Homo sapiens: one gene and its partner. The protein of the gene in region 2 interacts with the protein of the main gene of each other region in a biochemical or structural test. Each region holds a gene or a part of one and is shown on either strand. Other genes may lie near its edges.

Region 1 (3,645 bases), on a different chromosome or scaffold from region 2:
ACCTGGATTCTACCAGTTGTTAACCTTTTCCATATTTGCTTGTATACATTACCCCCTCACCTCCCCCAAATTTTTTTTTTTGAGACGGAGTCTCGCTCTGTCGCCCAAGTTGGAGTGCAGTGGCGCGATCTCGGCTCACTGCAAGCTCCGCCTCCTGGGTTCACACCATTCTCCTGCCTCAGCCTCCCAAGTAGCTGGGACCACAGGCGCCTGCCACCATGCCCGGCTAATTTTTTTGTATTTTTAGTAGAGACGGGGTTTCACCCTGTTAGCTAGGATGGAATTGATCTCCTGACCTCGTGATCCGCCCACCTCGGCCTCCCAAAGTGCTGGGATTTACAGGCATGAGCCACCACACCTGGCCCAAAATTTTTTTCTATTATTTTTATTATTTGAAAGTAAGTCACACACATGATAGCATTTCACCCCAGAATCCTTCTCCAGATGCCTTCTGAGCTCAGAAGCTGTCACCTGTACAACCTCTTCATCATCACATCCGAGATAGCATTAACATTGCATTTTTTTTTTTTTTTTGAGATGGAATCTCGTGCTGTTGCCCAGGCTGGAGTGCAGTAGTGCGATCTTGGCTCACTGCAACCTCCGCCTTCTGGGTTCAAGTGATTCTCCTGCCTCTGCCTCCCAAGTAGCTGGGACTTACAGGTGTGTACCACCAGTCGTGGCTAATTTTTGCATTTTTAGTAGAGGTGGAATTTTATTGTAACGTGGCATTTTCTAATGCAAAGGTGACGTGCAGCCTTCCTCAGTGGTCACCTGTCCTCCTCAAAGCTCTTTCTTGTTCTTCTTTCTTTCTCTCTCTTTTTTTTTTTTAGAGACAGAGTTTTGCTCTGTTGCCCAAACTAGAATGCAGTGGCATGATCATAGCTCACTGCAGCCTTGAACTCCCTTGGGCTCAAGCCATCCTCCAGCCTTAGCCTCCTGAGTAGCTGGGACTATAGGCCTGTGCCACCACACCTGGCTAATTTTTTTTGTTTGAGACGGAGTCTGGCTCTGTTCCCCAGGCTGGAGTGCAGTGGTGTGATGTCGGCTCACTGTAACCTCCGCCTCCTGGGTTCAAGCAATTCTCCTGCTTCAGCTTCATGAGTAGCTAGGATTACAGGCGCCCACCGCCACACTCGGCTAATTTTTATATTTTCAGTAGAGACGGCGTTTTACCATCTTGGCTAGGCTGGTCGCGAACTCCTAATGTCATGATTCACCCGCCTTGGCCTCCCAAAGCGTGAGATTACAGGCGTAAGCCACCATGCCCAGCACTGGCTAATTATAATTTTTAAAATTTTTTGTACAGATGGGGTCTCGCTTTGTTGCCCAGGCTGGTCTTGGACTGGGTTAAAGTGATCCTACCACCTGCTCCTCCCAAAATGCTGGGAATACAGGCATGAGCTACAGCAACCTGGCCAGCATTTCTTAAAATATGAGGGTAGTTGTCTCGTATTTTATATAAATACAGGATTCACAATCTGGATTTGTCTCATTGTTTCCTTGTTAGATTAGGTTCAGGCTAAGTATTTATGGCAAGAATACTGCTTAGGAGATGATGAGCTAAAGGTAACTTTTTTTTTCAAGATGGAGTCTCACTCTGTCACCCAGGCTGGAGTGCAGTGGCGCGATCTCGGCTCACTGCAACCTCTGCCACCCGGGTTCAAGCGATTCTCCTGCCTCAGCCTCCTGAGTAGCTGTGATTACAAGTGCCTACCACTGCGCCCGGCTAATTTTTGTGTTTTTAGTAGAGACGGGGTTTCACCATCTTGGTTAGGCTAATCTTGAACTCCTGACCTCGTGATCTACCCACCTCAGCCTCCCAAAGTGCTTTGAGACAGAGTCTCGCTCTGTCGCCCAGTCTGGAGTGCAGTGGCGCGATCTCGGCTCACTGCAATCTCCACCTCCCCGGTTCAAGCGATTCTCCTGCCTCAGCCTCATGAGTAGCTGGGATTACAGGCTCCTGCCACCATGCTGGGCTAATTTGTGTATTTTTAGTAGAGATGGGGTTTCACCATGTTGGCCAGGCTGGTCTTGAACTCCTGACCTCAAGCCATCTGCCTTGGCCTCCCAAAGTGCTGGGATTACAGGTGTGAACCACCGTGCCCGGCCTTCCTTAGTGGCCCTTCTAACCTTAAGCTGCTTTTCCTTCCTGACAGCGGGGCCCTACTCTCCTGGTCTCTTTCCTGCTTGGGCAAGGTGCCATGAGGCTTTTCCTAGGCCTTGACTTTGCTGTAGCTTCTAAGGTGTCCTGTGGCGGCAAAAGGGACGTGTGCTCTGTGGGTGGGTGCAGCCACCTGTAGAGCTGCAGCTATATCCGCAGGATGGTTGTGTGACTGATGGTCCTTGGGGAGCCCAGCAGTGAGGATCTCAGCAGCCCACCTGTCTCAGAGTCCCCGCTGTGCACCCAGGCCCAGGGCTCAGTGAGTGAGAGCTCTCCGACCTCGGTGGGGGCGGGGCTAATTGACCTTCAGACCCACCGTGTGCCAGTGCTGGCTGGCACACAGCACTGCTTGGACTTCCCCTGTGGGAAAGGATGGGGACAGATCAGTCTTTGGAAGAATGGAGCGCTGGCTTTGCTCAGCCCTGTTCTTGGGAAGGTTTGATCTGGAGAGCCGCAGCAGCCAGACCCTGGGGAGGCAGGTTAGTGAGCAGGCTCCCAACTTACGAGCTAGGAAGGCTGACGGCTGCTCATTTCCCCCCATGTGGACCTCATCAGGGGGTCCTTCCTGAGGGCGAGCGCTAGGTTCGTCTGCGTTTCTCTCTCCCAGTTGGGCCTGACTCTGGACGCCAGGCTGAGGGAGTACACAGCTCCTTCAGAGCACGGGCTCAGACGCTCAGATGCTCGGAGCGCTTCCGGCTGCTTTTCCATGGGTAACTCACATGTTCTTCCTGCAGGCTGGCATTTGTCTTTCATGGCTTTTTTCCATCGGTCAGAATTACAGTCTTTTGATTGTATGTACGTACCTGGTTATTATCAGATATCTAGTTTAAAATGTGCATCTGAATATAGATTTTCTTGGTGAACGCATTGCGTTCTCATTCCGTAAAAAGTCGGAAGCTCAAAATGATGCTTAAAAAAAAATCTTAGCAAGCTCTCCTGTGCAGATGCTGCTGGCGCTGAGCTTTGTGCCTGGGGCAGAAAGGGTGAGGACGGCCCCGGTTGGTTTAGGAAAAGTGGTTATGAACAGAACGGGCCCCATGCTCCTGGCCTGAGGAAATGTTGTGTGAAAAAGATGGCTTCTACAGCTTGAAGGGGGACGGTCCACCTGATGCTCCTGTCCCTCTCTGAGCCCCAGGGGCAGAAGGGAAACAGTCAATAGCACGGCCGTTGCAGATGGTGCCCATAGAGGGAGGGTAGTTAGTGTCTGAGCAGGAGAGGGTGACCGGCCTTTGTGGGGCTGCTTCAGAGAGCCGGGCAGAGTCTGGGCCCCAACGTGGACTAGCAGGGGAGGAGCTCTCCTGGCTGGGGTGGCGACTCGGGGAGGTCTGGGTTGCCTGAGCAGGGAATCGGCCTCCAGTGGGGGAGGTTCTGAGTGGGACGCGCTCTTCGTGTGGGCCTGGAGGACCTCTAGGCGGCCTGCACTCGCCTGATACAGCTGGCTTCTGCTGGGAGGCTGGGTTTGCATCCAAACTCTGAGACCTTTT
Region 2 (3,745 bases):
ATGTCCCTCAGTTTTTTGTTACCTGGGATCTAGGAATGTTCTCTAATTAAAGAAATGGAATGGTGATGGTGTGTTGAAAGGTATAGGTTAATGAGTTAAAAAAAAAAAATCTACATTGCACCCTAAGGAAGGATGAACTTAACTATGCTGAACTGAATTGACAAGGGTTGAGCTAGTCAGTGTGCTAATGAGCAGGCTACTATTCTCATAGAATTTTTAAAAGTCTTTTCTGCCTGATATGTATGTGTGTATAATATGTATTTATATATGTATATATTTGTGTGTATATTTATTACATTTTTGTTTCCACAGGCTCTGTCATAAGTCTGGTCATTAATAGCATATATTTGATTAAAAGAATATGTGGCTTGGTAAATTATGTGAATGTTATATTAAAATGAATTTCACATTGTCTTGATTTACAAAGGCTAAGATGTCTGAGAAACTGAGAGATGTCAATCAACAGACTATTGTTTTAGCAATTGTACATAACACATAAAAATTCTGAATCAAAGTTATTATGTTATTCAATTGTGACCATACCTATTTTTTGTGACATTTTACAAAAATGAATAAAGTATGCACCATACAGTCTTACCACAGAAGTAAGGCAGGGTGGCATATGGCGAAACCACTTCAAGCTGCTGAAGTAGTTAACTGTGAAATATTTTACTGTCATAATATAGCATTATTTTCTGCCAGATGAATCATTCCGAAGAAGCTGTTTTCATGGTCAGTGTAAAAGTCCTTTTGTTAAATACTTATGTCTTAACTACCTACTAGATATTAAAAAAAACAAAACCACACACACACCAGACCTAGGTGCAAGGAAGGGATAATAAGCCCTGATGCAGTTCTTAGGTGAGAACTGGAAAGGGGCCGGAGGGTTTCAGAGCAACAAGCAAAGTCAGTGAAGCAGAGTAAATCCAAATACTTGGCCAATGACAAATAAACCAGAAAGGAGACACGCCAGCTGTTCACGCTGGAAAGTTACTGATCGTTTATTCTGGTTCAAGTTTTATTTATTCTATGAATAAGGGACAAGTTTTCGATGGGGGTGGGGTGTCTTATTCCTTATTACAAGAATAAGGAACGGGGAGTTTTCAAGGCAGGCGGGTGTTTCCTCAGGGCGCTTCCACACTCCCCTTTCAATCAGCAACCGCTCGGGGGGACCTCCACCTTGGGACGGAACCCCAGGACGCCTCTCCTCGGACGGCGGGGGTTTCTCTGCGCGCGTCCTCGGTCGTCTGGTCGCACGGCTTACCGAACTCTCGCCTCTCAAATTCTGAGTTCTGGAACAGGGCAGCGAGCTGCGCCGGCTCCCCTTTCTCGCTCGCTCCCTCCGAGCAGCGGCTGGCGGCGGGGCCCAGGCTGCGAACAAAGGCGGCGCGGGGCGCGCGGCCGGGGCTGGCGCGCGTCTCTCCGGCAGGAGGCGGTGGCGGCGCCGCGCCCGAGCCCGCATTCCTCAGAAGCGCCCGGAGCCCGCGGGGCGACGTCACCCCCGGCTCCGCCCCCGTCCCTCCCCGAGCAAAGTAACTCTTGACTAACAGGAGCAGCCTCCGCCGAGCATGGAGAGCTGCCGCCGCGGCCGGCCGGCGACGCTGGCGACGCTTTCGCCCCTGAGGTAGTTTGGCGACCGCGAAGAAGGAAAAAGGGCGGGCGGGCGGCTGTCCTCTCACCGTCCTCACCCCGCGAGGCCCGGCCCGCTCCTCCGTCGTGGATTTCGCGGCGATCCCCCCGGCAGCTCTTTGCAAAGCTGCTTGAAACTTCTCCCAAACTCGGCATGGATACGACTGCGGCGGCGGCGCTGCCTGCTTTTGTGGCGCTCTTGCTCCTCTCTCCTTGGCCTCTCCTGGGATCGGCCCAAGGCCAGTTCTCCGCAGGTGAGTGGCCGGGGGGCGTCCCCGACGAACGCCTGGAGTCCTGGGCTCACGAGGGGTGAGCCAGGTCCCCGCTAGGGCTGGGGACAAGGATCGTGGGGAGCTCTCTCTGTCCGGGGGTGGGGAACACAGGGTAGAGGGAGGGCTGTCCCCAGAGTTCGTGCCAGGTGGGACGCGGGGCACCCATTGTTCCTCTCCGAAGCTTGCTCGGGGCTCAGGCTGGCACGGTCTAGCCGGAGAGTGTGGGGACCTGCTGGCTTCGGCGTCTCGCGTGGCCTGCGCCGGGCTAGTGGGGAAGAGAGAAAGAAAAAGTAGTTACGACTCCCGTGACGGCACTCTGTTGCTTGTGGTGCGGGTTTGTTGCTGTCTGCCACTTGGGTGTTTAAACAAATTCCCTGGGAAGCCATTGTCAGAAATGTGGAGATTCGAAGGGACTGACCTCGGCGCGCTTTGCCAGGTGCTTTTTGTCCCGGGAATAACCTCCCCTGACTATTGTCTAACTACTTCCCCGTCCCTCCCGGAGTCCCCTTTTCTCCTCCCCCAGCTCTGGGTTGCTCCCGGGCTTGCCCTGTGCGCTCGGGCACTGCTTGGAGCATGTTCTGTGTGTGTGTTGGCGGAGCCCTGTAAGATGTGTTGAAATGCGGTTCTAAGGACCCACTCTGAGCGTTCATGGGCATCGAGGTCTGGGCGCCTGGTGGAGGAAGCCTGACTCGCGCGTGGGAGCCCGCTCCTCGGGCAAAACCACCGCCAGGCTGGCCCCGCGCTCCCCGGATCCGGCCTGGGGCTCTGGCCCCGCGCTCCCCGGATCCGGCCTGGGGCTGGAAGCGGACTGTAAATGTCTGCCTTCTGCCGGAGAACCCAAAAGGAGACAAGTGGAGCGTCTCGCTGTAGCCCTGGGGGTTCTCGGTCAAGCCGCTCAGAGAAGTCCGTGAACCCTGGCTCTCCCGGTCCCGCCCTCTGTTCCCCTCCAGTTTTGTTATCCTTCGTGTAGGTTGGTTGCTTCTTTCGTTCTCTCCTCTGGGGGCTCTGAAGTTTCACCAGGTGGACGCTGGGGAGCGGGCTCCCGAGCACTTGTCTACCTCCCGCCAGTCCTGACAACTTTTCTGGCCAACCTACCCAGCTTCGCTTGGCTGGCGAGCGCATCTGCTGCTGGGGTTCGCGGTGCAGATGGAGACGCAGTGGTGGCCAGAGGGTGATGGAGAAGACGGGAAAAGCGACAGCCACGCTCCTGGCTGAAGCCGCAGGACGCAAATAACTTACTTTGTACCTGACAGTTTCTCACGTTGTTGTGGAGGCCCTGTTTCCTGGAAATAAACTCAAATTGTTGTTTTCTGGAGTAATCGTTTATTTCCCTTCCATTGCTCTCCTACCCCCGCCCCATTTAGAACTCTGTAAAGGGAGTTAAACAACAGATTCAGGTGGCAGCATGTGTCGTACATTCAGGCAGAGATTATGAAATGGCAGCACGCAGAGGAAAAGCCCTGTATATAATTGATGTACGCAGAGGGTAACAGCTCTATGCAAAAAATAATCCAATGGTTTAATTGAATTCTTTCTGGAGTAAGCATTACTGCATGCATTTCTGACATATAATGCCCGTTAGCATTGAAACCGTGCTTGATGTAACTCATTATATGCAGGCAAGTTGGAGTGAGTATTGATTTCTGCACAGTGTTTGTCACTGCACGGAGAGCCTACGCTTGAAAAGGCTTGTAGTTTGTTAATTGAAAGTTTGAACTCTACCAGTTGCATAATTAAACTTACATGTATTCAAGAGTTGCAACTATTAATGTCTCAACAGCGATGGATATATTTTCAGCAGTTAGAAAACTTTTTCTCTTTTTAAATGTTATTTACCCTTTAAT

The links. The genes of interacting proteins can lie anywhere in the genome.
Region 1: of the proteins of PTPRK (region 2) and PDPK1, one has a biochemical effect on the other in vitro, tested with the Homo sapiens proteins (one large-scale study listed by IntAct).

What each region holds. Positions count from the first base shown.
Region 1 is NC_000016.10:2,544,521-2,548,165, forward strand, and holds part of PDPK1 (3-phosphoinositide-dependent protein kinase 1), read left to right. Parts: intron 1-2,307; exon of another isoform or gene 2,308-3,645. UniProt on the Homo sapiens protein: Serine/threonine kinase which acts as a master kinase, phosphorylating and activating a subgroup of the AGC family of protein kinases.
Region 2 is NC_000006.12:128,518,397-128,522,141, reverse strand, and holds the start of PTPRK (receptor-type tyrosine-protein phosphatase kappa isoform b precursor), read left to right. Parts: upstream 1-1,542; 5' UTR 1,543-1,783; coding exon 1,784-1,883; intron 1,884-3,745. UniProt on the Homo sapiens protein: Regulation of processes involving cell contact and adhesion such as growth control, tumor invasion, and metastasis. Negative regulator of EGFR signaling pathway. Forms complexes with beta-catenin and gamma-catenin/plakoglobin.